Homo sapiens: one gene and its partners. The protein of the gene in region 1 interacts with the protein of each later gene in a pairwise test. Each region holds a gene or a part of one and is shown on either strand. Other genes may lie near its edges. The genes, in order: TMPRSS2, ANKRD46, SEC22A, PTCH1, TMEM229B, TMEM218 and STX7.

Evidence for each region.
Region 2: the proteins of TMPRSS2 (region 1) and ANKRD46 interact in binary tests that used the Homo sapiens proteins (3 or more experiments, as listed by UniProt).
Region 3: the proteins of TMPRSS2 (region 1) and SEC22A interact in binary tests that used the Homo sapiens proteins (3 or more experiments, as listed by UniProt).
Region 4: the proteins of TMPRSS2 (region 1) and PTCH1 interact in binary tests that used the Homo sapiens proteins (3 or more experiments, as listed by UniProt).
Region 5: the proteins of TMPRSS2 (region 1) and TMEM229B interact in binary tests that used the Homo sapiens proteins (3 or more experiments, as listed by UniProt).
Region 6: the proteins of TMPRSS2 (region 1) and TMEM218 interact in binary tests that used the Homo sapiens proteins (3 or more experiments, as listed by UniProt).
Region 7: the proteins of TMPRSS2 (region 1) and STX7 interact in binary tests that used the Homo sapiens proteins (3 or more experiments, as listed by UniProt).

The regions. Positions count from the first base shown.
Region 1 is NC_000021.9:41,463,360-41,467,768, reverse strand, and holds the end of TMPRSS2 (transmembrane protease serine 2), read left to right. Parts: coding exon 1-35; intron 36-1,615; coding exon 1,616-1,627; coding exon of another isoform or gene 1,628-1,649; 3' UTR 1,650-3,464; downstream 3,465-4,409. UniProt on the Homo sapiens protein: Plasma membrane-anchored serine protease that cleaves at arginine residues. Participates in proteolytic cascades of relevance for the normal physiologic function of the prostate.
Region 2 is NC_000008.11:100,528,716-100,533,447, forward strand, and holds part of ANKRD46 (ankyrin repeat domain-containing protein 46), read right to left. Parts: intron 4,597-4,732; 5' UTR 4,494-4,596; intron 3,746-4,493; exon of another isoform or gene 3,641-3,745; intron 1,146-3,640; 5' UTR 1,119-1,145; coding exon 808-1,118; intron 1-807.
Region 3 is NC_000003.12:123,239,511-123,244,242, forward strand, and holds part of SEC22A (vesicle-trafficking protein SEC22a), read left to right. Parts: intron 1-4,732. UniProt on the Homo sapiens protein: May be involved in vesicle transport between the ER and the Golgi complex.
Region 4 is NC_000009.12:95,478,267-95,481,899, forward strand, and holds part of PTCH1 (protein patched homolog 1), read right to left. Parts: exon of another isoform or gene 3,561-3,633; intron 2,323-3,560; coding exon 2,124-2,322; intron 1,825-2,123; coding exon 1,703-1,824; intron 882-1,702; coding exon 734-881; intron 1-733.
Region 5 is NC_000014.9:67,474,449-67,479,180, forward strand, and holds part of TMEM229B (transmembrane protein 229B), read right to left. Parts: intron 1-4,732.
Region 6 is NC_000011.10:125,094,096-125,098,827, reverse strand, and holds the end of TMEM218 (transmembrane protein 218), read left to right. Parts: intron 1-1,087; coding exon 1,088-1,222; 3' UTR 1,223-4,439; downstream 4,440-4,732. UniProt on the Homo sapiens protein: May be involved in ciliary biogenesis or function.
Region 7 is NC_000006.12:132,446,574-132,451,305, forward strand, and holds part of STX7 (syntaxin-7), read right to left. Parts: 3' UTR 1-4,732. UniProt on the Homo sapiens protein: May be involved in protein trafficking from the plasma membrane to the early endosome (EE) as well as in homotypic fusion of endocytic organelles. Mediates the endocytic trafficking from early endosomes to late endosomes and lysosomes.

The DNA of each region.
Region 1 (4,409 bases):
TGGTATTCACGGACTGGATTTATCGACAAATGAGGGTAACTATCCTGTCCTCCTTCTGACTGTGTTCTCCGATTCCTCGAGCCAAAGCCAGACATCTGTTAGGCGTGGTTCTGCTGCTGGAAGCTGACTGGTGACCACTGGTCAGCATGAAGCAAACTCTGCTTCCTCCAGCCACAGCCCCATCCCCCCAGTGTCCACCCATTGCCCATTGCCTCTCACTGGCTTCACTTGCATATTTCCCCTGGTGTTTGGATGAAAAGCGCTGGGGCTCAGCTTGTGTGAAATTCCTTGGTGCTCTGCCAACCACACTTCGTTCTGGCTCAGCTGACTCAGCTGTTCCACCCAGGCCACCTCACATCAAACTTTTTTTTTTTTTTTTTGAGATGGAGTCTCACTGTGTCGCCCAGGCTGGAGTGCAGTGGCACAATCTCGACTCACTGCAACCTTTGCCTCCTGGGTTCAAGTGATTCTCCTGCCTCAGCCTCCCAAGTAGCTGGGACTACAGGCATGCGCCACCACGCCCAGCTACTTTTTGTATTTTTAGTAGAGATGGGGTTTCTCCATGTTGGCCAGGCTGGTCTCGAAGCCCTGACCTCAGGTGATTCACCCACCTCAGCCTCCCACAGTGCTGGGATTACAAGTGTGAACCACGGTGCCCGGCCTCACATGAAACTTTTGATTTATAGAGAGCAGAGGGAAGAGCCGGCTGTGCCCATCCTTTTCTGGGGCCATCGAGTGGCTCCTGGGCAGCCCCCAAGGTTAGGAAGGGCAGGAGCAGCCAGGGTTCTCTGATGCCCCAGACTCAAGCACGAGGGAAGGTCTCAGGGGTTCCATGTGAGCCTCATGGATGTCTCTGCTTAGCAGAGCCCTGGCTTTGGGCATTGTCCAGATAGGGGGTGAGAACCAGATCTTCTCATCTCCAGGACCTCAGACGTATAGTTTTCTCAGATTTCTGTGCTTTCTGGGGCTGGGCTACTAGTGGAAGAAAGCAGTCTATTCTGTCTTCTCCCAAATCTCCCAGATGCCCAGTCTGTTGAAGGAGGAGCAGAACCAGGGGGCCTTTCCCGCTGAGGCCCGACCTGTGTCTCCTTCAAATGACACGCGGGACTCAGGGCCTTCCCATGACCATGGGGCCCAGGGGGCGTCACCTGGCCCAGGGCCCAGTGCTAGAAACAGATGACCCCAGGAGGAGGAGGCAGGGCAGGAGGGAAGCTGGCAGGGCTGGGATGGTCAGCCAGGCTGAGGGGCGGACTCGCACCAGGATGGAGCTAGGAAATGATCCAGGTGTGTTTGGCGGCTGCAGGTGGGTCCGCATGGCTGTGCAGGGAGGGAAGGGCTGCGTGGCAGGAGAGCAGCCGGGGGAGGCCCAGACTCTGCTGAAGAGATGCCTGTTGTGCCGGCCTCCACATCCGCTGCCCGCTCCTTCCGGAGCTCCTGCCCCGCCATGCTCAGCCTGACTCTGACCAACACGTTGGAGAGAAGAATGATCCCTTTGTGCTATTAAGCTTGCTTATTTGGTTTCTAAGTGCTTCATGCGAACCTAGAGGAAAAAATTATTTTCCACCTTTGTTTGTCTTAAGAAAATAACACACTTTTTTTTTTCCTATTTGAACAGGCAGACGGCTAATCCACATGGTCTTCGTCCTTGACGTCGTTTTACAAGAAAACAATGGGGCTGGTTTTGCTTCCCCGTGCATGATTTACTCTTAGAGATGATTCAGAGGTCACTTCATTTTTATTAAACAGTGAACTTGTCTGGCTTTGGCACTCTCTGCCATTCTGTGCAGGCTGCAGTGGCTCCCCTGCCCAGCCTGCTCTCCCTAACCCCTTGTCCGCAAGGGGTGATGGCCGGCTGGTTGTGGGCACTGGCGGTCAAGTGTGGAGGAGAGGGGTGGAGGCTGCCCCATTGAGATCTTCCTGCTGAGTCCTTTCCAGGGGCCAATTTTGGATGAGCATGGAGCTGTCACCTCTCAGCTGCTGGATGACTTGAGATGAAAAAGGAGAGACATGGAAAGGGAGACAGCCAGGTGGCACCTGCAGCGGCTGCCCTCTGGGGCCACTTGGTAGTGTCCCCAGCCTACCTCTCCACAAGGGGATTTTGCTGATGGGTTCTTAGAGCCTTAGCAGCCCTGGATGGTGGCCAGAAATAAAGGGACCAGCCCTTCATGGGTGGTGACGTGGTAGTCACTTGTAAGGGGAACAGAAACATTTTTGTTCTTATGGGGTGAGAATATAGACAGTGCCCTTGGTGCGAGGGAAGCAATTGAAAAGGAACTTGCCCTGAGCACTCCTGGTGCAGGTCTCCACCTGCACATTGGGTGGGGCTCCTGGGAGGGAGACTCAGCCTTCCTCCTCATCCTCCCTGACCCTGCTCCTAGCACCCTGGAGAGTGCACATGCCCCTTGGTCCTGGCAGGGCGCCAAGTCTGGCACCATGTTGGCCTCTTCAGGCCTGCTAGTCACTGGAAATTGAGGTCCATGGGGGAAATCAAGGATGCTCAGTTTAAGGTACACTGTTTCCATGTTATGTTTCTACACATTGCTACCTCAGTGCTCCTGGAAACTTAGCTTTTGATGTCTCCAAGTAGTCCACCTTCATTTAACTCTTTGAAACTGTATCATCTTTGCCAAGTAAGAGTGGTGGCCTATTTCAGCTGCTTTGACAAAATGACTGGCTCCTGACTTAACGTTCTATAAATGAATGTGCTGAAGCAAAGTGCCCATGGTGGCGGCGAAGAAGAGAAAGATGTGTTTTGTTTTGGACTCTCTGTGGTCCCTTCCAATGCTGTGGGTTTCCAACCAGGGGAAGGGTCCCTTTTGCATTGCCAAGTGCCATAACCATGAGCACTACTCTACCATGGTTCTGCCTCCTGGCCAAGCAGGCTGGTTTGCAAGAATGAAATGAATGATTCTACAGCTAGGACTTAACCTTGAAATGGAAAGTCATGCAATCCCATTTGCAGGATCTGTCTGTGCACATGCCTCTGTAGAGAGCAGCATTCCCAGGGACCTTGGAAACAGTTGGCACTGTAAGGTGCTTGCTCCCCAAGACACATCCTAAAAGGTGTTGTAATGGTGAAAACGTCTTCCTTCTTTATTGCCCCTTCTTATTTATGTGAACAACTGTTTGTCTTTTTTTGTATCTTTTTTAAACTGTAAAGTTCAATTGTGAAAATGAATATCATGCAAATAAATTATGCAATTTTTTTTTCAAAGTAACTACTGCATCTTTGAAGTTCTGCCTGGTGAGTAGGACCAGCCTCCATTTCCTTATAAGGGGGTGATGTTGAGGCTGCTGGTCAGAGGACCAAAGGTGAGGCAAGGCCAGACTTGGTGCTCCTGTGGTTGGTGCCCTCAGTTCCTGCAGCCTGTCCTGTTGGAGAGGTCCCTCAAATGACTCCTTCTTATTATTCTATTAGTCTGTTTCCATGCTCCTAATAAAGACATACCCAAGACTGCAATTTACAAAAGAAAGAAGTTTATTGGATTTACAATTCCACATGGCTGGGGAGGCCTCACAATCATGGCAGAAAGCAAGGAAGAGCAAATCACATCTTACATGGATGGCAGCAGGCAGGGAGAGAGTTTGTGCACAGAAACTCCCATTTTTTAAACCATCAGATCTTGTGAGACCCATTCACTATCACAAAAACAGCACAGGAAAGACCCACCCCCATGATTCAATTATCTCCTATCAGGTCCCTCCCACAACACATGGGAATTATGGGAGCTACAAGATGAGATTTGGGTGGGGACACAGAGCCAAACCATATCATTCTGCCCCTGCACCCCCCAAATCTCGTATCTTTACATTTCAAAACCAATCAGGTCTTCCCAACAGTCCCCCAAAATCTTAACTCATTTCAGCATTAAGTCAAAAGTCTACAGTCCAAAGTCTCATCCAACACAAGGCAAGTTGCTTCCACCTATGAGCCTGTGAAATCAAGAGCAAGTTAATTACTTCCTAGATACAACGGGGGTACAGGCATTGGGTGAATACAGCCATTCCAAATGGGAGAAATTGGCCAAAATAAAGGGGCTGCAGGCCCCTTAAAAGTCCAAAATCCAGCAGGGCAGTCAAATCTTAAAGCACCAAAATGACCTCCTTTGACTCCATCTGTCATATCCAGGTCACACTGATGCAAGAGGTGGGTTCCCATGGTCTGGGGCAGCTCCACCTCTGTGACTTCGCAAGGTATAGCTTCCTTCCTGGCTGCATCATGGGCTGGTGTTGAGGGTCTGCAGCTTTTCCAGGCACATGGTGCAAGCTGTTGGTGGATCTACCATTCTGGGGTCTGGAGAATGGTGGCCCTCTTCTCACAGCTCCACTAGGCAGTGCCCCAGTAGGGACTGTGTAGGGGCTCCAACCCCACATTTCCCTTCTGCACTGCCCTAGCAGAGGTTCTCCAT
Region 2 (4,732 bases), on another chromosome or scaffold:
AGAACCCCAATCACATTAAATCCTGCAGTCAATTCCTACCCCATTTTGTCCTGCAGAAACAAAAGCATTTACTGTCTTATTCAGATTTAGGGGCATTATGGCATCAATAAATTAGGGCAGTGTGTAACTGTAATTTAAAGGTCAAGCTCAGTTTTACAGGTGACTTGACATCGTTCCCACTCAAAAAGCAGAGTATCACTAAAACAAACAAAAAGCCCCATGACTTCCTCAAATTGTTCAGTCTAAAAAGGATCCTGGACTCCCGGGAGATTATGAAGCTCACATGGTGCGTTACATGACAGAAGGCACACAAGCGTTAGAGTCAGCGGAACTAGGTTCAAATTCCAGCTCTGTCCCTTATAAGCTGTGACCTTTTCAAATCCTCTATAAACTGTGTGAACTTTGTCCAATCCTTTTTTGTCTTCACTATCTAATCTGTAAAATGAAAACACCTATTGTGAGAGCTCTTCATTCTGAGGACTAAATGAGCTAACAAGTAAACACAGTCTAGCTCATAGATTTTCAACAAATGTTCTTTTCTTCTTCTTCCCTTGTTGTAACACTACATAATTAGTAGCAGAAACTACCTACTATTTTCATAGAAAAAAATATGCTGCTTTAGCAAAAATCTAGAAGTCAGCCCCTCATTCCCTCACTTGCCTAACAGGATTACACTGTCTTCAATGCTTTCTGAACTTATTTCAACTGATTAATGAGGAAACAAAACCAACAGACCCAAGATAAGATTATCAGTTGAGAGATTAATGGGAAGAAATGACTAGACTTCTAAAACAACAGAGAACTTACCAAATATCAATTTTGAGTCCATTGGAAACCAAAAATTGGATAGTATCCACATGGCCACAGAGGTGAAGAGCTGTGTTTCCTTGATAATCTGTGGCCAGAAGATCGGCACCGAATTTATGCAGTAACTGGCAGATGTCTACATTCCCTCGAGCTGCTGCAAGGTGAAGGCCTGTTCTGCCCCTGCTGTCACGAATATTTGGGTCAAAGCCACTTTCCAAAAGCCGCTTGGAATAATTAAAGTCCCCATCAATACAGGCTTGCAGCAAGGGCACGTTAGTCTGAGAAGAATCATTTACAAAAACATACGACATTGTTCTGATGTGGTGGATGGAACACGCCTGTAATGAAATAGGTGAGTGAGATTCCATGAAGACAAATGAAATCAAGACAAAGGAGTCATTTAGAAAAGCAATATTTCTCATCCTTTTTGGCCTCCTGCCTCTAATAAATAAATGACCAAACAGAAACAACAACAAAGTTATCAATTGTATTTTATTTTCCATTAAAACATTTTATTTTCTTCACATCTGCTGGATTAAAATTCCAATTCAATTACTGTAAAGCTCTATTTTGCTTTTCACCATGTAAAAAGATTAAGAGATATTTTTAAAGTTAAGCAAGACATAATAGCTTAGATTTAAGTATTACATTGTCAGAACACATAGATAACATGGTGTTTAAACATCAAAGAACTACCCATATATAAATGCTACTGCTGGTAGACATTCTTATTTAATACAAACTAATTCTCTTTGATATATTTGCTTCTTCTTGTATTTGAGATATTCTACATGGTAACTAAAACTACTTGCATGAAAAGAACTTATACTCAACAAAGACCTGTAGAGTGTTATGTTTATAGCACAATTTTTTTTTTTTGAGATGGTGTCTCGCTCTATTGCCCAGGCTGGAGTGCAGTGGCGCGGTCTTGGCTCACTGCAACCTCCATCTCCCGAGTTCAAGCGATTCTCCTGCCTCAGCCTCCCAAGTAGCTGGAATTACAGGTGTCTGCCACCATGCTCAGCTAATTTTTTGTATTTTTAGTAGAGACGGGGTTTCACCATGTTGGCCAGGCTGGTCTTGAACTCCTGACCTCATGATCCGCCTGCCTTGGCCTTGCAAAAAGTGCTGGGACTACAGGCGTGAGCCACCGCGCCTGGCCTATAGCACAAATTTTAAGAGAAAGGCTAAGGAATGTAACAAACTGAATTTAAAAATCAGAGCATGAAATCAATTCAGATTATGCTTTTTCCACTATTGATCTTATTCTGCTGTGCTCTGTGGTTATCTCAATATGTGACTGTGCCAAATTCCCACCGTCCAAAGACTGAGAGATGAGGGGAAAAAAAAGTAGGGCTGTCTGGGAATACCAAGTCAGGACAAAGCAGCAATCCCAACTAGGTCTGATGTGAATTTCATCTCTTGGACTCATCCAGCTCACCAGTTTGCCCACATCTCTTTCACAGATGTTTCCTGGCCCCACTGGCGCACCTGAACTCAGGTGAGAGTTCAGCATCTGCCTGGTGCACCTGAACTCTCAGGACATTTTGCTCTACCAAACTGCATACAACTAGGTCTCTCTCTCTTCCCCTAGGTTCATTTAAGAAAGAGTTAAAGCCTGTCAAAAGAAACTTCGCTAGGAAATTGACGAGAAAACAAACAAGAAAACAGAAAGGCAGAGACCAATGCTTTTCTAGAGATGGCTTTTTTATTCTTAGGTTACAAAAGCTTAGTCACATATGGACTTGGCTTATACAGCTGATCAGGTAAAGTCTCTTTCTGAAACACTGATGGAACTGGACGCTAGACCCATCTATTCTTGTGCCTAACCTCAAGGGGATTCAGGGAAGCCTGGCTGCTGAGTTTGGTGAGATTGCTGCCCCTATTCCTTTCAACTTGGCTTCTCAGCAGAGCCATTGTCCCAAAATCTGGGGCTGCCTTACACAAGGGCTCTGCTGCTACCATGGGCTCTCTGTGGAAAGAGTGGGCATTAACATACACTGAGACTTGTTCTGAGCCAGGTACCAACTAGGAGCTTTTAATGAATTTAATTTAATCTTCCTAACAACTCCACAGTTAGGCTTTTTTATACCTGAATTTCAGTGAGGAGCCACTGAAGGATTTTTTTTGTTTTAAATTGAGACAGGTTCTTGCTCTGTCACCCAGGCTGGAGTGCGGTGGTACAATCATGGCTCACTGCAGCCTCAAACTCCTGGGTTCAAGCAATCCTCCCACATCAGCCTCCTAAATAGCTGGGACTACTATTTCAATGAGTCCAGCCCACTGAAGAATTTTAAGTCAAAGAAATGGCACAGTCTTATTAGTCTTTCAGAAAGATGACTTGGATGGCAATATGGAGGCACTGGATTGTAGAGACAAAGACTGGAGGCAGGGAGATCAATCATTAGGTCATTGCAGCTATCTAGGCAAGAAATGAAAACCTGACCTAAGGCAGTGGCAGGCAGAAGGGGACGCACTGGAGAGGAACAGAGAAGACAGAATTAGCACAACTTAATGACTCACTGGATATGAAATGAAGGGTGAAAAGGGGCTGTTAAGAATAATTTCAAATACGAAAAAAAGTTTATGATTAAAAACTACAGAGATTAAAATCAAAATAAACTTCAGATTATGATACATATGATGACTTTTTAAAAATCTGGCTGGACACAGTGGCTCACACCTGTAATCCCAGTACTTTGGAAGGCCAAAATGGGAGGATAGCTTGAAGCCCAGGAGTTCGAAACTAGCCTGGGCAACATAGCGAGAGACCCTGTCTCTATAAAATATTTTAAAATTAGCCAGGCATGGTGGCGCGCGCCTTTCGTCCCACCTGTTCGGGACGCTGAGGTGAGAGGATCACTTGAGCCCGGGAGGTCGAGGTTGCGATGAGCTGTGATTGAGCCACAGCACTCCAGCCTGGGCATCAAAGTGAGGCCTGTCTCAAAAAAACAAACCAAACCAAACCAAACCAAACCAACAAACAGAAAAACTCAATGAGAAGAATTTACTCAATAAAATAGTCAAGAATTCTTTTGCGAGGGTAATCTAAATATTTTCCCTTACAGCAAGGGTGTCCAACATTTCGGCTTCCCTGGGTCACAATGGAAGAAGAATTGTCTTGGGCTACACATAAAATACATAATGATAGCTGATAAGCTTTAAAAAATTGCAAAAAAAATCTCAGAATGTTTTTTAAAAGTTTATGAATTTGTGTTGGGCTACATTCAAAGCTGTTCTGGGCTGCAGGTTGGACAAGCTTGCACAGTATTGAATCATAAAAATGGAAAAGCTATCATAAACCTTTTTCAAAATGAAATGCCACATATCAAGTGCTTTTCAAAAGGTAATGTGTTTTGGTTAAATTTTTAAAAATAGATAATTTAAAAAATCTAGTTGGTGTTTTTGATTCAGACACAGTAAGAATTCTTGTGGTTTGCAGACTAGGATACTTCTGAGTGTTGGCTCAGCAAGAAATACAAGTCTCTGTGTCTATTTTTCAGGTGAGAACAAGTGTGTATTTTGTCAGTTTCTCTGTGTCCCTGAGCAACTACTAAACTTAATCCCACATTTAATAAGCCCAATGATAGTTATTTTTCATCTTGATCACAGAACTGAATCTGTCCTAAAGCAGTTCACTGAAGGTTTCACATCTTGTGAGGAAGTCCACAGTAGTAAATACTCACGTAAGCCTTAAGATTAGATCTTTTCGTTCAGTGGTCACTCAGCAGTTTCTCTGAATTCTCAAGAAGGTTCAACAAAAATATTCTGTAATGTGCTGGCAAGGATCTACAGTAAATAGAAAATTAAGTTATAATAGAAGTGTGGTGAGAAAAAGAACTCACTGTTCTATTAAATACAGACAGGTTACTGAGCCTGAAGAAATTCTCTAGAAAATCTGTAGGTGAGGCATCAACTTGTGAGG
Region 3 (4,732 bases), on another chromosome or scaffold:
GTTCTCATTCTAACTGGTGTGAGATGGTATCTCATTGTGGTTTTGATTTGCATTTCTCTGATGGCCAGTGATGGTGAGCATTTTTTCATGTGTTTTTTGGCTGCATAAATGTCTTCTTTTGAGAAGTGTATGTTCATATCCTTCGCCCACTTTTTGATGGGGTTGTTTGTTTTTTTCTTGTAAATTTGGTTGAGTTCATTGTAGATTCTGGATATTAGCCCTTTGTCAGATGAGTAGGTTGCGAAAATTTTCTCCCATTTTGTAGGTTGCCTGTTCACTCTGATGGTAGTGTCTTTTGCTGTGCAGAAGCTCTTTAGTTTAATTAGATCCCATTTGTCAATTTTGGCTTTTGCTGCCATTGCATGCAAGAACTTTTATTGTGGTTTTGGTGGTAAGGAATGGGTGAGGCAGGGTAAGGAGGTTTTAAGATTGGCTAGTTTGAATAATTTCAATGGACTCTGGGGCATAGGTTCTATCTCTGGTTGTCTGACATGTGGCCCTGGGATGATTGGGATAGGGAAATAATGGCCCTGGCTGTGAGAGCCTTGTAGAGGAGTTGGTTGGTAGTGTGAGTCTGGATTGATTGGAATGCGTATGAAAGGTGGACTCAGACAAGTTGTTTGCCATCACTAGGAATTAGCTATCCCTGGGAGAGGCAGTTCTTCCATGGTCAGCAAGGCCCAAGAGGTCAAAGCATCAAAAATACAGAATAAAAAGACATGATTACTAAACACCCTTATCACAATATAGGACATTTCCATCTCCCCCGAAAAGTTTCTTTGTGTCCCTTTTCAGTCAATTTCCACCATCCTCTAGACAACGACTGTTTTTATTTTTTTCCACTTGAACTTTGTTTTGTTCCAGAACTTTATATAAAAGAAGACTACATTGTGTGACTATTGTGTTCAGCTTCTTTTGCACAGCATGATGTCATACATACATGTTGCCTGTCTCAGTAATTTGTTCCTTTTTATTCCTGAGCGGTATTCCATTGTATGAATGTACCACAATTTGTTTATTTATTCTCTTGCTGATGGACGTAAACTTGTTTCAGTTTTTGTTATTGCACATAAAGCTACGATGAACATTCATCCTTTTGTTGACATATATTTTCATTTCCCTTGAGTAAATATTAGGAGTGGAATTGATAGGTCAAAAGGTTGCCTGTTTAAGAAACTGCCAGTTTTCTGAAGTAGTTGTAAGATTTTACTTTCCCAACAAGCAATTTGTGAGCATTTTGATTACTCAACATCTTCACCGACATTTAGTGTTGTTAGTCTTTTTACTTTTATGTTGTGCTTTAAAAAAAAAACTTCACAAAACCCTAAATTTAGGGTTTAAACTGATAGAAACACTTCTGTCAGTTTCTTTGACACTTGTATATTTTTCATCTATTTTATCATTTTCTAGAAAATTTGTCAGTTGCCTGAAAATGCTGCTCTGTTTTGGCTGGTGCCCACAAGCCAAATAGATTTACTAATCTCTCTTTCTTACACACACACACACACACACACACACACACACACACACACATCCCCTTCATAATCCAACAGGTATTTATCATTTTTTTTCTCTAAAGTATTATGCTAAATTTTGTGGAGGCATTTTTTAGAAATACAGTAAACACATTAACTGTACTCAGAATGAGAAAGGGAAATACAATCCAATAAGTAAAACACAAAGTAGAATGTGATACATGCTCCAAAAGAGGTAAGAAGGAAGACTCAGGTCTTGGAGCCTTGAAGGATATGCATGATTTTTACAGGTGGTGATGATAAAGAAGGGCCTCACTGATGAAAAGAATAGTGTGTTTTTGTGCCAGACTGTTAGTCTCATTCAGTCACACTTCAGTAATAAATTAGGCTCATTTAGATGGAACTGACTTGAAATTTCTCTCTTATCTTCCACAGTCTGTTTCCCTAGGCATTGTGGGCATCTTTGAGATTTCGAATGGTACCATCTCTTTGAATCGTCATAAGGACTATTCTGGGACTTTGCTTCATCAATTATTTTTCCTTTTTCTTGATTCTTCTATTTCATCTTCACTGAATTATTTCATTCCACCTATGTATGTATTCAAGTCTTCCTCCCTCCCTCCAACACTGTAAGAGAAAAAAGAATTATTTTCTCAATCCTATTATCTCTGTTAAGCTTTCATCCTGTTTTTCTCTCCTTTAACTTCAGTAGTATTCACTTAATGCTTCCACCTCTTAACATCGCCAGTTGTTCAACCTCTTGCAATCTGAATTTGATAAGGAAAATGTGGTTCATATACACAATGGAGTACTGTTCATCCATGAAAAAGATGAGATCCAGTCATTCGCAACAGCATGGAGGGAACTGGAGATCATTAAGTAAAATAAGCCAGGCACAGAAAGACAAACATTGCATGTTCTCACTTATTTGTGAGATCTAAAAAGCCCTCAACCACTTTTCTGGAAAAAAAAAAAAAAATTTTAAGGAGAATCCTAGCATCTCCTGTTCAATAAGTCTAATACTTTTTACTTTAAGGTCAGATTTTTTTTGGCCTATCTATAGGCACTGTTAGCCATATCTTTCTTCTTGATGGTCTCTCCTTCCTAGGTTTCACTTGATTCTCCTGCATCTGCCTTCCCTGACTCTTCTTCCATCCCTTACTGACAGTGTTTACCAAGGATTTCCCTTGGCCTGCTTCTTTCTTTGACGCTCATTTAAACCTTTCCCTTCAGTTGCAGACCTCGTCTGCTTCTCCCAGCTATTCCATTCTTCAGTTGCTTGTTAAACACGGCCCACCATCACCTCAAATATGATGTTAAAATGTCCCCATTTTTTATCAAACTTAAGTTTCTTCCTGTGGATCTGTTGCTCAGTACTCTCATCTTTCCGATCACCTAGAGGTAAAACCTCAACATTTCTTTGAATTTTTTTCCCCCTTTTGTTTGCCACATCTAATTAGTTGCCAAGTCTAATAATTTTAACCTCCATGACATCTTACTTCTTTTTCCCCATTTCTTTTTTTTTTTTAATTTTAGCTTTATTCTTTAATGAACTCCCAAGCACTCAGATTCCCATTTCTACTGTGACTATTCTGATTCAGGCCCTGATTTCAGTCAGTCTTTTGCAGTGACTCTCCCACAAACTTCCTAATGTAGAACTGTAGAAAGAGCATGGGCTCTGCAGTCAGATAGACCTAAGTGCTAATTGTGAAGATGGCCCTTCTGGCTGTCTGACTTATAGAAAATAATTTAATCTTAATTGACAGATGAGAAAGTTTAGGCACAGAAAAGTTAGTCATTCCAGTTCAGTCACAGAGAAGTTAGTCATTTCTACCTCATGAAGTATGCCATTCTGAAGGGTAAATGAGACAATGGGTGCTTAGTGAGAAGGTACTCAGAAAAATATTATTTCTCCCTCCCTTACTTTTGATCTCTTTACAACCCATTAATAGATTAATCTTCTTTAAGTATAACCTTCATCATATGAGAATCTTGTTCTTCAGTGGTTCCCCATTGTCTAATTTTCCATAATTCTTAGCCTAGAATTGTATACTATCAATTTGTGTCCACCTCCCTTTCTGACCTTATTTCTCCCCACTTGTCACAAACATCGCTTTGAGCCAAACCAAACCACTAGCAATGCCCTATAGCAGAATGGCTGAGAACATGAATTCCAGAATCATCTAAATCCCAGTTCACGTACTTACTTTGTGCCCATGAGCAAATTATTTAATGTCCCTAAACCTTTCCTATTCTGGGAGGGGTGGGGAGGGGGCGGGGTGGGGCAGAAAACCAGGATAATTATAGTGCCTACTGCATTGGGTTGTTGGAAGGATACAGTGAGACCAAGTATATAAAGCACTTGGTGCCTGGCGTGTTGAGAGCAGTCACTGTTGGTAGAAGTAGTAGTTGTTGATGCTGTTGTTACTCGTTTCTCCCATTTCCATCTCCATCACATTCACATTCTTTTCTCTGCGTGGAATGCATTTCTTCCCCTTTGTACCTGACTACATTTTATCTATCTTCAAAGCTCTTTCCTGGTTCTAGACCACCCTCCCCCTACTTTATCTTTCCACTTCATCATTCCTTGCCTCTTTTAGCTTAGAATGCTTATTACTTTCATATACTTATCTGTTTTATCTCTTTTATAAAAGACTAGAAGTGCCTTGAGGGCAGAATATGTAATTCAATTTTTGTATCTTCGAAAGCATAGCATCTTACACAGAACCATGCCAGAAAGTATTTACTGAATAAATATATTAATTTACTGTAACCAATAGCTCTTTGGTTCCTTTGGTTCTAAGGGGTTTATTCTTACTTCTTTAGGAACTTTTGCAGAGTCTCCATAAACCATTGGTACATTTTCAGAAACATTTAATTTTGTTATCAACATGCCATCCTTGGGTTCAAGAAGACTAAAGAAAAGACTTTATAGGAGAAGGCAATAATAACAAAAGCAAAACAAAAACTGACCAGATGACACTGCTTTGGATTCAGCAAAATTATTGTTTTTCTACACTGCCTCTTATTTGTTATTGTTACAAACATTCTACACCAAATATTATAGTACCTAGAATGGTGCCAAATTAAGCATTTTTGGATAATAGTGGATCTAAAATCTGTTTTACTGAAGTAAAAAAAATAACAAATAGTTAATACATTAAAATGTGATTAAATATCTAGTTCAGTTTGTTAAAATGAGAAATTATTAAGAAGTGTCACCTTCTTATGTTGTGGGCAGATGGAGTATTCTCTTG
Region 4 (3,633 bases), on another chromosome or scaffold:
CAGCGCAGCCCTTCTTTTTTTCTGATGCATTTTTTAAAAAAGTTCTACGTGATTCCAGGGCAGGGAGAGAAGCTGAAGTTGGGCTAACATTAAAGAACCCTGTTTTAGGACAAGGGCCATGGCTAATCAGTGGCAGTGGGTGCTGCTGAGGGCTGGTGTCGCTGGAGTTCACTCTGAGTGCTGTATTTACTCCAGGGCTGAGACTGCTCGTCTCTTCTCCGTTAACTTCACAATTGACTTGCGGTCCCATCGGCTCCCCACTAATCCAAAACAACTCATTCTTATGGCCCTCCTCCCCCTGTTCATTTGCTGGCCACTTTTAAAAGGTCACATGCAGCTCAGTAGAGGTCACTGCTTGGGAAACAAAGGCCAGCTCCTGTCACATGACCTGACCAAGGGGCCTGCAGCTGTGAACAGATTCTATGCCTTGCTAATGTTTTCCAGACACCTTTGCTAACCAAGTGTTTTTTTAAACACTGTTATGTGCTTTAGTTCTGGAATTCACAACTGGTTACTAAACATGTCTCAGGGCACCCCAATTAGAACTAGTCTTTTAGATATTATCCCAGGATTTTCAATATCAAAGAAGAGGAAAAAAGTTTTCATCCCATCAAGTTCCCAGAATTGCAATGTTTTGAAAATAAAGCGAATGGAAAGAAATGTTTTAAATAATGGTGAAAATGAAGAATTGCATAACCAGCGAGTCTGCACGCCGATTCGAAGGTGGGTTTACCTCCACATATGTCCTCTGCCAGGCCTCCAGGATGGCTGCCGCTTTGTCCTCGTTCCAGTTGATGTGTGAGACATACTCGTACCCCTTGAAGTGCTCGTACATTTGCTTGGGAGTCATTAACTGGAACATGGTCTGCAGGGCATGGGCGCTGCAGCACAGTCCAAGGGAAGGCACATCATCAGTATTCCCAGGAAGCAGTTTCCACTGCCTCAAATCCCCAGCCAGCTCCCCCAACTCACTGGCTGCAATTCTTTTCCTTCTCTGTGAGCACATGTTTCCATTAAAATGGGACCAGGATGGTTATTTTATTTAATAGATTGATGTACCATATTAAAGGTATAACCTTACAAACCTTTTACAGATATACCCCAAAATTAAATTAATAGGCAATTTCCTTTCACAGTTTCCATTCCATGAAACAGGAAGGGGAGAGGAGCAGATAGCTTGAACAGATACACCGGGCTCAGTGACGCATACTTGCTGTGCAGAAATCCCAGACGGTGGCGTTCCCAAGGGAGAAATCTTACACGAAACGCCAGACACCTGACTGACCAGAGTCCACAAGTGCACAAAGGATAATTCTTATTGAGCCGCTGGCTCTCCATCTTTTGCTAACAGTCTATGACACTGTGCAGCTCGCACCACCAACTCTCTCTGACCAGTGTGTCCCGGCCTACTTTACACCTGCTCCCATTCTCTACCTAATGGGCAGATCTCCTTAAACCCTATAGTCAGGAACTATGGTCCTGATGAAAACTACAAATCCATTCTTGAAAAATTCCCCACAAGGTGCTTTTTCAAGCTGTTGCAGTCTGCTACTATTTCTTAATATTCTATGACGCCACCTGGCTAGCGAGGATAACGGTTTAAGTATTAATACAAATACACTTGCCGATGTCAGGAGGGAAGTGGCTTTTGAGGAAAGGAAGAAGACTACAGGGCATAGATTGTCCTCGGGAGCTGGCTTACCTGACGAGTTTTCCAGTGCTGTTCTTGACTGTGCCACCCACAATCAACTCCTCCTGCCAGTGCATATACTTTCTGGATAAGCCATGACATCCACCATTCAAAACAAGGGCCATATCAAGAGGCTAAAATAAAAAGACAGCCACATAATTATGGGAATTAGTAGGCAGGTCACATGCCTTGTTAAAATCCAGTGCATTAAGGGCTTGTGTGTTTCAGAGAGAACATTAATAGCAAGGCTAATGGGAGGTGTATGGCAAATCTTACAGCAAAATTTAGCTCTATAAATAAACTTAGTTCCATAGACAAAGACGATCATGGAGAATGAAATGTTAAAAATGAAAATAATAAAGTGAACGATGAATGGACACAAAAAAGTGTTTTGCTCTCCACCCTTCTGAGAGCGCTCACTGCTGGTACTCACTTTGGTTGAATTTTTGTTGGGGGCTGTGGCGGGGCAGTCTGGATCGGCCGGATTGAGGCAGGGGCGGTCCATGTAACCATGACCAACCTCAGCCTTATTCAGCATTTCCTCCCAGCTGTCCACTTGATAGTTTATTTTCTTTAACTCTTCCAGGAATTCCAAAGGGTCGAAGTTTGTCCACCGCAAAGGAGGTTTACCTCTGCAAAAGAAATTAGGAGACGAGACCATGAAAAGAGCCTTCTAAACGCATCGTAAAGTAACACGGCTGCGCCCACTGCATCCACCTTGTAGGAGGTTCCTGGCAATGCTGCAGTTCTGGGACTCTGGCATCAAAACAAATGCTCCTTTCCAGCATATCTGCATAAAAACTTAGGTCAGGAAAATAATTCATGACTGAAGATGCTAAGCAGAGAGAGGACTCATAAGTTAATGAGGGCACTGAATAATCTTTAATTGCTGATATTGTATATTTAATATCTACATACAAAATTAGCCAAAAAGACAGATCCAAAATTAAATTTTTTTTTTTTTAAAAAAGAGGGCGTCACAATATCAAATTAGCACTTGGCAGCCAAATAAATACTTTGTAAATGTCATCAATCAAAATATTTGATCTCTGCTACCTTTAACAATCCCATACTTATGAGCGCTCTCTGACAGCCTGGCAATGGAATGGGCAAGCCCCCTGCAGCCTCTGCCATCACCACCATCACAGCCACTTCCCCCCACACTCACTTTTGAATCTGTGCTGTTGACAGACCAGAAAGGCTTTTGGCTGCCTGTTATGTGGTTCAAACCACACTGTAGCTGCTTAACCAGGCTGAAGTCATTATTCGGAATCTCCCAACCAGAAAACACAAAACCCCTTATTTCCCATCTAAAACTGTACACTGAAGGTCAGGGGATGGCCACTGCAAATTGCTTTTGCAGATATGTGCAAGCCAGGACAGAAACAATAACCCAAGCTCTCACTCTTGCATAATTAACTGAAAATGTCTATGCTGATTAACAATTATTCTCTAAATGATGCGGTATATATAATATCCAACTGCTAAACGGTGAAACATTCCCTACTGTGGCCTTCACAGATAGTGGATTTCCCCCTTAAATGCCATTAGTGTGATCTAAAGAAAGGTTAGCTTTTTACTTCACAGGAAGATCTCAAACTCAAAATATTTCATTCTGATGTGAACCCACTCACTAATAAAGTCTCTCCTTAAAAAATAAGTGTCTAAATGCCTCGTCTTCGAAACTACGAACATTTTAAAGAGTTAAAAAATCACACGTACTCTGCAATAATTTGCATTTTATTTGCATATAAATAGGTTGGTAAAAGTGAATGAAATTTAATGACGCCTACAGAATTGTTTTTTGAAAAGAGAAAAAACATTCTGCTGAAATCCCCTCTCCCCCGACTATTCACTCAAAAAATGCACATGGAATTTCAATGTTTTTATTTCTTGTTCAAAACTGAAATGGAACAAACAATGATAAGCAACATTAGAAACAC
Region 5 (4,732 bases), on another chromosome or scaffold:
GATTTCTCAGCAGGCCTATCCACTGGGGACCCCATTTCTTCCTCCACTTCTTCTCAAACAGTTCCATGTCACTCATATTTCTGAGATGTAAGTGACTCATCACATTTGTCCTTGTGTGTGTGCATGCCATTTTTTAACCATGTGTAAGTGTACAATTCAGTGGTCTTAAGTACATTCACATTGTTGTGCAACTGTCACCACCAACCATCTCCAGAACTTTTTCATTGTCCCAAACAGAAACTTTGTATCCATTAAATACAAACTCCCATTCCCCATACCCTCAGCCCCTGGCAACCACTATTCTATTTTCTGTCTCTATGAATTTGACTACTCTGGGTGCCTCATATAAGTGGAATCATACAAACACTGTCCTTTTGTGACTGGCTTAGCATAACTGGCTTAGCTTTCACTTAGCCTAATGTCTTTAAGGTTCATCCATGTTGCAGCACATGTCAGAATTTCCTTCTTTTTTTTTTTTTTTTTTTGTGACGGAGTCTCGCTCTGTCGTCCAGGCTGGAGTGCAGTGGCGCAATCTTGGCTCACTGCAACCTCCGCCTCCTGGGTTCAAGCGATTCTCCTGTCTCAGACTCCTGAGTAGCTGGGACTACAGGCACACACCATCATGCCCGGCTAATTTTTGAATTTTAGTAGAGACGAGGTTTCACCATGTTGCCCAAGCTGGTCACAAGCCCCTGAGCTCAGGTGATCCGCCCGCCTTGGCCTCCCAAAGTGCTAGGATTACAGGCGTGAGCCACTGTGCCCAGCCAGAATTTCCTTCCTTTTAAAGGCGGAATCATATTCCATTGTATATATCACCATATTTTGTTTATCCATTCATCCATTGATGGACACCTGGGTTGCTTCTACCTTTTGGCTACTCAAAATAAGGCTGCTATGAACACGGGTGTACAAAGGTCTGTCTGAGTCCCTGCTCTCAACTCTTTCAAGTACATATGCAGAAGTGGAAATACTGGATCATATGGTAATTCTATGGTTAACTTTCTGAGGAACCACTGTGCTGTTTTCCACAGTGGCCACACCATTTTACATTCCCCATCAGCAATGTACAAGGGTTCCAATTTCTCCACATCCACCCCAAACACTTGTTATTTTCTGTTTTGTTTTTATAATGGCCATCCTAATGGGTGTGAGGTGGTTCTCTCATTGTGGTCACATTTGTCTTTGCTCCATTAAATGGGGTTTTGGTGTTTGGTTTCAGTGCTGAGGGGAAACCAATGGATTGACACAGGAAAGAGTCCTCCCCAGTCCTTCTGGCTCCTTTCCCCTCCCCTCTTTTAAACCCCACCAGTCTTCAACGCCCGGCTCCCATGCTGCTTCTCTCTACTTTCTCCTCACCCTCCACCAGCGACTGTCTGCACCACTTACCTGGCCCATTATCAGGTGCCACCCCAATGGCTTTTTGAGGTATGTGCTCTCATGATCCAACTAGCATGTGAACTCCTTGAGGATAGTGACTGTTGCACAGGCCAGTGCTTTGTGGCCTTGACGCAGGCCCGTCCTGGGCAGGCCCTCTCTAAATGACATGTCCTGTTCATGTGGAGGGAGGTGTGGGACTGCATCAAGAATGGGAAGGTAGGGCTTGAGAACATAAATCCCAGCTCTGCCAGCTGCTAATGGCTTCACATCTCTGTCGATCCCCTCTCCAAGGTGGGAGAAAAGACAGAGGTTAAGGAAATGGCATCTGTAGTATGCACACCTGTCTGGGAATTCCAGCCTCACATTTCAGCTGAAGCAGGCCTGGTCACATTAATACCTACCCAGCCTTGTGCATTGCTCTGTGGTCTTCCAAGCACTTCGTTCGCATTTTGTCATGGTTCTTACATAATTAAAATTCAGGCTGGGCGCAGTGGCTCACACCTGTAATCCCAGAACTGTGAGAGGCTGAGGCGGGTGGATCACCTGAGGTCAGGAGTTTGAGAACAACCTGGCCGACATGGTGAAACCCTGTCTCTACTAAAAATACAAAAATTAGCTGGGTGTGGTGGCATGCACCTGTAGTCTCAGCTACTTGGGAGGCTGAGGCAGAAAAATTGCTTGAACCCAGGAGGCGGAGGTTGCAGTGAGCCAAGATCATGCCACTGCACTCCAGCCTGGGCAACAGAGCAAGACTTCCTCTCCAAAAAATATATTTATAAATAAAATAAAAAAGATTCATGTGAAGGTCAGAAAATTTTACTCCCATTTTTTTGCAGTGAGACAGAGCTCAGAGAGGGGACATTATTTACCCCATATCCCAGGGCCAGTAAATGGAAGAGCTGAGATTAGAACCAATATCTCTTGCTTTCTACTGCAGAACTCATCCCCTGCACATGACTGCCCATCTCTTAGACATACGTACCAAATGTCTCTCCCCTGCTCAAAAATGCTCGATAGTGGCTGGGCACAGTGGCTCACGCCTGTAATCCCAGCACTTTGGGAGGCGGAGATGGGCAGATCACCTGAGGTCAGGAGTTCAAGACCAGCCTGACCAAAATGATGAAACCCTGTCTCTACTAAAAATACAAAAAAACAATGGATGGGTAGGTATTAATGTGACCAGGCCTGCTTCAGCTGAAATGTGGTGGCATGCGCCTATAATCCCAGCTACTTAGGAGGCTGAGACAGGAGAACCGCTTGAACCTGGGAGGTGGAGGTTGCAGTGAGTCGCGATCGCACCATTGCACTCCAGCCTGGACAACAAGAGCGAAACTCCATCTCAAAAAAAAAAAAAAAATGTTCGATATCTCCTTATTTCCTAATGAAACACAACAGCATCCTTGGCCTGCCATTCAAGATTCTTCATGACCTTGCCCCGATTGACATCTTCAGCCTTTTCCTCACAATCCAGCTCTTCCTGTCTTTCATCTCCATGCCTTTGCAGGTCCTATTCATTCTGTTAGGCGTGCCTTTCTCCTCTCACTTCCATGAGTATAAACCAGCTTGCAGGTTACCTTCAGAACAAAATCTCTTTCATTCCCCCAGGTCCCAAGGCTTCTCTTCCTCTTCTGAATTTCTACAGCACTTACTCTGTCTCACTCCCTTTGCTACAGGTTATTTTCAATATTATATTGAGAATTTCTGTCCCCGGCCAGACCTCTTTCCTGTGTGCTACACCTATAGCTCCTGCCCTTCCCTAGACAGCTCCCCCTAATGTCCCACAGGCATCCCAAACTCCTTTCCTAAATCAAACCCATGGGCAGGTGTGGTGGCTTATGCCTGTAATCCTAGCACTTTGGGAGGCAGAGGCAGAAGGATCGCTCGAGCCCAGAACTCTTGAATTCAAGACTAGCCTAGACAATGCAGTGAGACTCTGTCTCTAAAAAATAAATAAATAAAATCAAACCCATTATCTTTTCCCCAAAACCTGTTTCTCTCCTAAGACCCCCACCCCAATTAATGGCACCACCATGCACCCAGTTAGAACCAGCGGTCTCAAAGTCTGTCTGGCTTCCTCTGCCACATCCCCACCCTAACATGAGTTCCTGAGAGTGAGGGCCTTGCCTGCCTGGTTCAGCATAGTATTCCCAGTGCCTGGCACAAAGCCCAGCACATAGTAAGCATTCAAGAGAAGAATAAAGACATTTCTTAGTTAGCAATCGCCATATAACAAATCATCTCAAAAACCCTGGCCTAAAACAACTACCGTCTACTATTACAGCTCACATGTCTGTGGTTGGCAGACGGCTGGGGCAGCGTAGCTCCACTCCACCTGTCTCTCATCCTCCTCCGGGGCCCAGTGGACTTGCCTGGGCATATTCTTCTCATGGCAAGGGCAGAGGCACAAAGCTGAGCAAGGCTAGCTGTACAAGTGTGGTTCAAGACCCTGGCTAAGCCATGCCCACCATCATCCCACTGGCCAAGGGAAAGCCACCAAGTCAGCTACTAACTCCCACCCTTACCACCTCTTAAATATCTTTGGGATCCATCCCCTCCTCTTCATTACTCTTCTCATTGCTGCCACTGCTCTGGTTCACGCCCTCATCATGTCTCACCTGGATGACTCCAAAGGTCTCCCAGCTTTGCCTTCTTCCTTCTAATTCACTCATCACAGGATGAAAGAGTGTGTAGAAAAAACGCAACCTTTCTAAAATGCAAATCCGATGTTTCTCACCACTTGAAGCCCATGAGTGGATCTTCAACATCTACAGAGTAAATAAAGCTCAAACCCCTGGGGACGGCTGGCAAAGCCCTTCACAACTCGTCCCTGCCTCCAATCCTGTCCTCCAGATCTCTACCTTGCTGTTTTTGCTACCTGGGCCCCACCCAGGGCCGGTGAACCCTCCTTTAAGACCCAGCTCCTCCTCTGTGAGGACTTTCCTAAGCACCCTGACTCCAGAGTTGTCTTCCCACTTCTGCACCCTCCCTTCTCTGTGGTAATAGTGAGCACTCTGCTTCACTGGATTCATCTGAACGCCAGCACCAGCAGCCTCCTGAGGAATGCTTGTTTAAGATAGTGGTAAGAGAAAAAAGCAGGATTCAAAACTGAATATTCAACCTAACTCCGATTCTGCAAAGGCATGCATATGTGCACATATACAAAAAAATTAAACAACAATCATCTCTGGATGGTGATATCATATGTGCTTTTTTTCTTTATATTTTTCTGCATACTTTTTTTTCCTAACAAGCATGTATAACTTTTATAAAACTAAAATTTCATCTTAAAAATGCTTATGGAGGCTGGACGTGGTGGCTCACCCTGTAAACCCAGCACTTTGGGAGGCTGAGGTGG
Region 6 (4,732 bases), on another chromosome or scaffold:
TGCTCTGACCCTCTCTCCCACCTCCCTATTCAACTTAGAAGGATCCTGTGATTAGATTGGGTCCACCTGGATTGGATAATCCAGATTAATACCCCTTGTTTTAAGGGCAGCTGATTGGCAATCTTAATTCTCCTTTAACATATAATCTAACATATTCACAATTTCTGGGGATTAGGATGTGGATATCTTTGGGCCATTATTCTGTCTGCCACAATTGCCTTTCAGCTGTTTTGGATTCTCCTAGGTACTGGGATTTCAAAGTTTCTGTGAAGTCAGTCAGCCACTTGGTTGGTGGTGTTGCTCCATTAGGTCTATAGATTAAATTGCTTTTTCCTGCCCAAATTTAAGCACCACCATTTGGATCTGGGGAGAGTGGAGCTCTGGAAGGGGTCAGTGGACAAGTGGGTAGAGCCAACACCAATTATAGGGTTTTGTCAGCAAAGACCAACATCTTTGGGGCCTCAAGTGTAAGGCCAGGCAGCCCACTGTCTGCTTTGGGGCAAGTTACCTATCCTTTTAGTGTTTTAGTATCTCAGGTAAATGGTCATTTTCCCTGCCCCGTGGCATGGGACTCTTCCGCTGATAGCTTTAAAGAGTCACCTTTCATTTTGAAAATGAACCCTCCTGAAATGGCAATGGATTGATGATTTTGGGGGTTGGGTCTTAGATACATGGGAGTTTATTATACTATTGCATTTTTATGTATGTTTAAAATTCTCCGTAATAAAATGTATTTTAGCAACAACAAAAATGAGCCTTTCTAGGACCATGCAAAAGCTTCTCATTAACTCTTTCAGGTAACAGATTTCAGAATATAAAAGAATTCATCCAGGGACTTCAAAGTGTTTACCAACATCCTAAATTGAGCCATTTGTTCCCTGTCCCTCATTAATCCCTTCTTGTGTCTCCTGCTCAGGGAGTTGAGGAAAAGATTCTTTTTTCTCATGTACAGAGGAGACTCAGGGCAGGATGTTACTGGAAGTTATACACATGAACTAACTCTTGGCCCACTCATCATGGAGTTCAGGTTAACCCAGCCAGGGTGTCTAACTGGTAGTAATTTCATTTTGATGTTTTCTTTCTCCAGATTGTGGATGACTTTTTCATTGGCCGCTATGTCCTGCTGGCTTTCCTTAGTGCCATCTTCCTTGGAGGCCTCTTCTTGGTTTTAATCCATTATGTTCTGGAGCCGATCTATGCCAAACCACTGCACTCCTACTGACCACTCTTCAGGAAAACGAAAACCTGTTCTCTCCTTCATTGTGATGACATTGATGAGCAGGAAGGCACTATTCAGAGCCTTGTTTTGACAGCCCTCATGCCTTAAGGTTAGAGGAGTATCTGTCCATCACTAAGACAAATCTCTGGAGTCCTGGCTTCCAGAAACAGGATTGCCAAATTGTCCCTGTGGGGCTAGATTCTTACCAGCTTAAGAAGGATATTGCTATCTTCTTAGTACCCGTACCTTAGGATTTCCAACTGTTTTGAAAGGGAAATAGTAACAGTGATCTGCTTAGAGTGGATTTTCACTCAAGTCCTTAGTAAGTGGATTTTGGGGAAAAAAGCACCTGGGCTTCTGGTTCTTTTTGATAATATATAAAATTATTCATTATGAGGTTGCAGTTGTTTGCAAAGGAGAGGCACTCAAATTTGAAAGGTTATTTTAATGTGATAATTTGGAAGACTTACTCAGATGTTGGTCATTGACCACTCTGTGCATATATTTCTGCAGAGCTCTGTGAAGGCAATGAGTGTCACTTCCCTCTGCTCTAATAAAGCAATAAATAATAGCTAAAGGGCTGACTTTCACTTCGAACTCTTGGCCACGGCTTTTTAATCAAGTTCTTTAGGTTTCCTTGGGATTAGAGGAAAGGTATGGAAATATTGTTTTTTGTTTTTTGTCTTGCCATGTATCTGTAGGTTTTTTTCTTCCATGATGTGGTGGGCTGTGTGTGCCTTATTTAATTACCATGAGTCCATTTTGGGGTGTCTTCACTTTTCATCTTTGTAGCCCTTTCTCCAAAGCTAGTGAGGAAGGTATATTCTCAACATCAGATATAACTCTATACCTGTCTGATCTCCCAGACCAAATGAAATTTGCATTAAATGGAGGGGCCCTGGTCAGGTTCCACTTTGGAAGTCTGATCCTGACTCCCTAGAGCCATTTGAAAAAGAATCTTCTGGCTTAAAATTAAGAACCAAGAAAACAAGTTGGAAAGAGATCACTGATGGAGTATGTGCTCTATGCCAATAGCACACTAATTCCTTTGAGGTTTAATTTATTTAATTTTTACAACGGTCTCATTTTTATCATCCCCACTTTAAAGTAGAAAAAATGGAAGCTTAAAGAGATCAGCTGACTTGCCCAACCTTCACCTAACAGCCAGTGTGCAAACCCAGGTGTGGTAGGCCCCAGGGCTTGTCTCAGAGAGAAAACACACTAGGGTTTGTGGAACTCTGATTGAGAGCTTCAGGTAGGTTAAGGCCACACTGTTCCTTCACTTTCTCTCCTCAATTCTGTTTTCAGGGTAGAGAAGTTACCCAGTCCTGCCACCCCACAGGCAACTAAGCTCTAAATTCCAAGAAGAGAGAACAGGTAACCACTGAGAGTCATGGGCTGGTGAGGGCCAGGTATAGTTATCCCTACATTGAACCATTTCCTTTATCTTACTTAGTTTGGAAAAACTTTGCAGATAAGGCTTTGTACAGAAAACTTCAAAGGAAATAGTTTCCTAATCTGGCCTAGGGCACACAGGTAAGAAAAGAAGAAACATCCTCTAAGCAGATTGAGGGAGAGAAAAAAGAATGCATAAGTCTTGAGGGAATTGAGACAAGCTGGGGGCCTCATGCTATTGTGAGTCTCCCTGCAGCCCAAGTGGAAGCTTGGCTCCTAACAAGCACAAGCTGCCAATTGTTACCTTCTTCTGAGAGCCTTGCTAAAAAAGTAACTCTGGGAAAACTCTTATAGGTTCCTGACCATGAATCCATCTTTTTTATTCCCCCCAAAAGTTATTCAACTATTAGATCAATGGATAATAACTATGAGGTTTTGGGTGACTATTTAGATGGAGGAAAGTGTATTAAGGTTGGAAACTAAATTCTATCCTTAATACTACTGTTTTCTAATTTTTGTTTTTTTGCCTGATGTAAATGAAAGGCATATATGTTAAAGATTGGCTTTAGGAAAAAAAAAAAAATACCCTGTGCAAAGTTTATTTCAGCTTGACTTGACCTACAGTCTACAGACCTGGAGTCTATAATTACCAGCTGTGGTGAAATGAATGATAGATTTCTTTCTACCTGCATACTCAATGCAGTTATGCAAAAAAAGCCCCGCAGGGTTGGGATAAGACGTAGAAGGCTGAGAGGGCTCAAAATGGATTTCACTGAGAGTTTGGCATGGGATAACCCTATAGTCAATGTCTGTTATGGTACCCTGTATGCTCATGGCCTTCTTGGAGACAGGGCTCAGAGGTCATTCCTTAAATACAGACAGAAGTCATCTTAGTGTTCAGAACCATTCTGTGATCAGTGGCCTTAGAACATGTTCCCTCTACTGTTCCCTACCCAGAGGGGATCCTGTGGCAGACTGGTGATCCCCACTGTTTAGAAGGTGGAGAGGGAGAGTAAATCTGGGTTTCTATATAAGAAAATAGGTTATTTCGTGGCGTCTTAAAATTGTATCCTGACAAAAGCTGAATTAGGAGGATACCACCCTATCCCCACAATGGAGATCACAATGGGTAATTTGTTAAGTTCCTTAAATTTTTCACTGATAAAAATGGAAGTAAAGCTACCATTCTTTGTGTACAATGTAAATTTAATGTAAAACTGCATCAGAATTACCATACCAATGTCCAGGGACTAGGGAGTACATAGCCATTCATTCTCGAATCCTGCCATTCATTCAGCATATATTGTGTGCCCGTAGGGTGTAAAGCACTAGTCCTGGTGGAGTAAGCCCATGGAAGAACTAGGCTGTAAGGTGTCTAGACTGTCTTCCTCACTGCTTCCTGGAAGGAGGGCATCCAATTTATTTTTAAATGTTTTTATTCTAACATAAAGCAATCCATTTTTTGTTCTGTTATTTAACAGAAACTTTAGTATCAACTCTATTTCATGGTTGTTGCAGTTGAAGTGTTTCTGGTTTATTTTTTGCTCAATGTGTAAAGAAACCTGCTGTGATTATTTTACAGATGAGAAACAGGCAGAGAGGACAAGGGATTTAAAAAGTTTCACAGTTAATTAGAAGTGGGGCTCCAACTTGACATCAGGATTCCTGACATCTCATTTCTCAAATAGTTGAAAGATCACTTTTGACTTTCAAGTAACTCCTTATTTTTACATTGGTTAATACTGTTTCTTAGCTGTTTGTACCTGACATTTTCTTAACACATATCCAAAAAGGTAAAAGTTTCATTAAAGGATTCTAATGATCATTTTAGTATGAATAACAAACATTCAATCATAATTCCTTTGCTTAAACCTTTAAGTATCTGGCTGTTACATAGAAATGAATTTCCAGATGTGAGAATCAGAACTGTATGGAAACGAATCTAGAAAAGTGTTGATTATCCTCATAGAAGCATAAGAACTCAGGATTGGAAGAGATTTTATAGTTCATAAAGTTCAACCTTTAATCTCTAGTTCCATCCCAATACTTGGAAATAAGTCTAGGGTTCCACATGTCAAAATAACAATTTTTGTTACATTTAGCAAACATGTGCTAGGC
Region 7 (4,732 bases), on another chromosome or scaffold:
AGGGCCCAGCATTTATTAAGCACTCAGCAAATGCTTACTAAATGAATGAATGACTCTACCCAAGCTTGTGTCTTTGTCTCGAAGCTGTATCTTCCATCACAGTATTAAAATGTTTTTTATGAACATGAGCATCTGGCTGCACATACAGAGCAGCACATTCCACACACTGCCCTAATTGGATCACCAATTGGAGGAAAGTAAGTCACAAGCTGATTGCCTAGAGTGGGTTTTTCCCCATCTCTGAACCAATCTCTGAGGCAAAAAGAATGCTATTAGGCTGACTGATTTATGTAAAGCAGTGCCTATCATTTCTGCAGTTAGGATGGAGTCAATTCCATCCAAAGCCAATAGAAGAGAGACAGTACTCTAAAAGAAGGCCTAGGAGCCATGAATAACTGCCGAGGGTACCATAGACACTGGGTTGGACAAGCAAGAAATAGTGACGATGTGACTTCTATTTTTATGATGGCTCAGCGGAAAATTAGTAAATACAACCAGTGTGTTAGAAATAATTCCGTATCTCCTAAGATACATTGGTTAAAAAGATACTAATAAGTTTTTGTGCGTGTAACATTTGACACCAGGCTTTTAAGTAAAACACCCTAAGATGGAACTTACTGTGTAGTGGAAAGAGTTAGACTCACTAGACATTGATTAGCTGACTGACATAGAGCGTTTCTTATCAGTCAACAAAACTATTTCCAGAGAGGCTTGAAATAAAACAGTTGACTTTATGTAGATTATGGTTAATATCTTTTGCAGATTTTCTAAGAAATCTTTCCCTATCAGAGGTCCCCAAAACATTCCTTTATCATTTTCCTTCTAAATCTTTTATACATGCTTAAGAAATATGCACATGCTCTAAATTGGGGGAACATGATCCTTTATGTATTAATTGAATCAACTTTGGTTACCATGTTGTTCTATTTACTTTTTTGCTGCTCGAGCTAAAAATTGAGTGACTTCAAATACAACATAATAGTTTTTTTTTCCGTTTTGCCCTCTACATTTTTACTTTAATAACTTTGTTTAGAACTGTTATACCTACTTCAGTTGAAATTTTTATTATTTTTGAGAGTCTCCTTATCCTTATTAATGCTTTTCACTTTAATATTTGTAAGGCTAATACTGATACAGCTATCCTAACCAGGTATATTTGCTTGTTTTATTTTCCCTAATTCTACTTTTTGTCTTTCTCTGTCCTTGTACTGTCTTTTGTAAACTGTATATATTGAACAAGGTAGACTTTTTTTTTTATTAATCTGGTGAGATAGGCAATTTATATTTATTGTAACCATTTATTATATACTATGCCATTTCTTTGCTTTTTCTATGCTTTTTCTTCCTTCTTGCATTTTTGTGGTCTATCAAAGTTGGGATTTCTAAAGTGTTTTTCCCTTATTTCAGAATGTTTCCTCTCTACTGGTTTGAAAGTTATATTGTATTGCTATTCTTTAAAGGTTATCTGAAAATTTTCTGTTAAGTACTTAGATTAACAACATCTAAAGTCATTCATTATCTTAACTTCCATCCTAAAGAGTATCAGGATCTTGGAGCACTCACACTAACTTCTAAGTGCTCCCGGACACTTTCCCCACATATACATTTCCTGAGTTATGTAAAATGTTGCTAGTATTTTAATTACGCTCTTTTTTACTCCACAGAGTAAATACTTCTTAATATAGACAGTATTTATTTACATTTCCCATGATTACTGATTTTTTAGCTCACCATACCTTCTTGCATCTCAGACTTTCCTCCTAGTCATTTTGCTGTACTCTAAAATTCATCTTTATTCTTAAGTGAAAGTCCCTTGTTTGTAAATTCTCATTTTGAGAAAAAAGTGTTTTTAATATACCCTTGATTTTGAAAGATAATTTCACTGGGCACTCATTCTATTGAGTTATTCTCTCAGTACCTTAATGATGTTATTCCACTGTCTTTTGCCTTCCAGTTTTGGCACTGAAAAGTCTACTGTTGGCCAGGTGCAGTGGCTCATGCCTCTAATCCCAGCATTTTGGGAGGCCAAGGCAGGTAGATCACCTGAAGTCAGGAGTTCGAGAACAGCCTGGCCAACATGGCAAAATCACGTCTTTACTAAAAATACAAAAAAATTAGCCAGGTTGTGGTGGCGCACACCTGTACTCCCAGCTACTCGGGAGGCTGAGGCAGGAGAATCAATTGAACCCGGGAAATGGAGGTTGCAGTGAGCAGAAATCACACCACTGCACTCCATCATGGGTGACAGAGCAAGACTCTGTCTCAAAAAAAAAAAAAAAAAAAAAAGGTCTGTCAATTCGTTATTCCTTTAAAAGTGGATAAGTTATTCTGGCTGCTTTTAAGATATCTTTGCCTTTATTGTTCTGAAGTTTGAGTATAATGAATATACATTGGCTTCCTTTTCCTGGTTGATATACATTTTGCTTCTTGTATATGTGGATCCACTTTTTTTTTTTTTAGACAGGGTACAGTGGCACCATCATAGCTCACTGCAGCCTTGAACTCCTGGGCTCGTGTGATCCTCCCTCCTCAGCCTCTTGAGTAGCTGGGACCACAGGTGTGTGCCACCATGCCTGGCTAATTTTTGTATTTTTTGTACAGATGGAGTTTCACCATGTTGCTCAGGCTGGTCTTAAACTCTTGGGCTCAAGTGATCCTCCCACTTGAGCCTCCCAAGTAGCTGGGACTACTGGTTCATGTCACCACATCTGGCTAATTCTTAATTTTTTTTGTAGAGATGGAGTGGGGGCTCTTGCTTCATTTCCCAGGTTGATCTCAAACTCCTGGCTTCAAGTGATCCTTCTGCTTTGGCCTCCCAAAATGCTGTGATTACAGGCATAAGCCACCATACCAGGTCCCAGGCTTTTCTTAGCTCTGGAAATTTGTCAGCAATTACCTCAATTTTTTTCTATTTTTTACTTCTTAGACTCCAATCAGCACATATTAAACCTTCCCATTCTATCCTTCAGGTCTCATAATCTCTAATTCTTATTTTCTATCCCTTTACCTGTTTTTGCTGCAATATGTTGTTTCCTCAGTTAAAACTTGATAGTCAACAATTCCTTTAGTTGTGGTGAATCTGCTCTTAAACCATTCATTATGTTATATATTTCAATAATTAAATTTCATACCTAAGTTGTCTTTGGTTCTTTTTAATATCTGCCTTTTAACACATCTCTCATTTCATGTTCGTTTTAATTCATACATTATTTAAACATATAACTGTTATTCTACTTCTGCTAATTGCAATACCTGAATTCCTTGAATATCTAAATCTACTGTTTCTCAATGCAAATGGTGTGTTTCCTTGCATGTTTGATTAATCTAGAAGCATTAATTAGGGAGGCTTTCCTTCGGAGGGGATTTTCATCCACTTCTTAGAGTAACCACCAGAGTCCACTGACTTAGGACTACTTTAATGCTTTAAAGCATTCCTGGTTTTATGAAGGAATCTTAGGTTCACTTTCTTTACTTTGCCTGGAGTCCATGGCTTAAGTCTCAGAGGCACAGTTTTCCTGTTTCTCAACTACTTTAATTTTAGCCCACTCTCATTGGTAATAGCCTTTAGTGATTATCTTTCTTTCTAATGAGCCAGGAAATGAACTAATATTATGTGTGTTGTATTTTATCCAAGAACTAACTGTATTTTAGCAGGAGGATCCTTGAGTATACCTAGTCAACCATATGGCAGGAAGCAGAAATCATCTACTTCGTAGTTGATTTTGGTAATTTGCATTTTTCATATAAATTATTCATTTTCTGTTTTGTGATATATTGGCATAAAGTTGTTTATAGTGTCTTATTATTTTAAAATCTATGTTTGGTTATTTATCTGTACTTTCATTCCTAAATTTTTTATGTCTTCTGTTTTTTTCCAAATCGGTTTCACCAAGTTATGTGTACTTTATTTATTTAAAGAGACCAACTTTTGTTTAAATTGATCCTCTCAAAAAAAAAAAAATTGATACTCTCTTCTATAGTATAGGTTTATACTCCAGGGGTCAACCAACATTTTCGGTAAAGGGCCAGAAATTTTAAAATTGAAAAATGCAGGAATCAATATGAAACACTTAATTGATAGGCTCAATAGCAGAATGGAAGCTACTGCAGAAAGAATGAATAAATCTGAAGATAAAATGATAGAAATTACACAGTCTGAACAACAGAAGAAAACAGGCAGAACAAAGATGAACAGAACCTCAGGGACTTACGGAACTACAATAAATCTAACATTTGTGTCATCAGAGTCTCAAAAGAAAGAAGAAAGAAGGAAGACTGAAAAAGTTCTTGAAAAAAATGACAGCTGAAAACTCCCCAAAATTGGCAAAAGACATAAACATATAGATGGTGAGAAGACCTCAAATATAATAAACCCCCCAAATCTACAAGATACATCATGGTTAAACAACTAAAAACTAAACACAAAGGAAAAAAAGAAAAAGAAAAAAGACAAATGACACCTATCTATAGGGACCAAAACAATTTAAAAAACTGGATTTCTCATGGGGAACCATGAAATTTTCTTTCCTTTTTTTTTTTTTTGACAAGGAGTCTCGTTCTGTTGCTCAGACTGGAGTACAGTGGTGCGATCTCAGCTCACTGTAATCTCCGCCTACGGGTTCAAGTGATTCTCCTGCCTCAGCTTCCCAAATGGCTGGGATTACAGATGTGCACCACCATGCCGGCTAATTTTTGTATTTTTAGTAGAGGCGGGGTTTCGCCATGTTAGCCA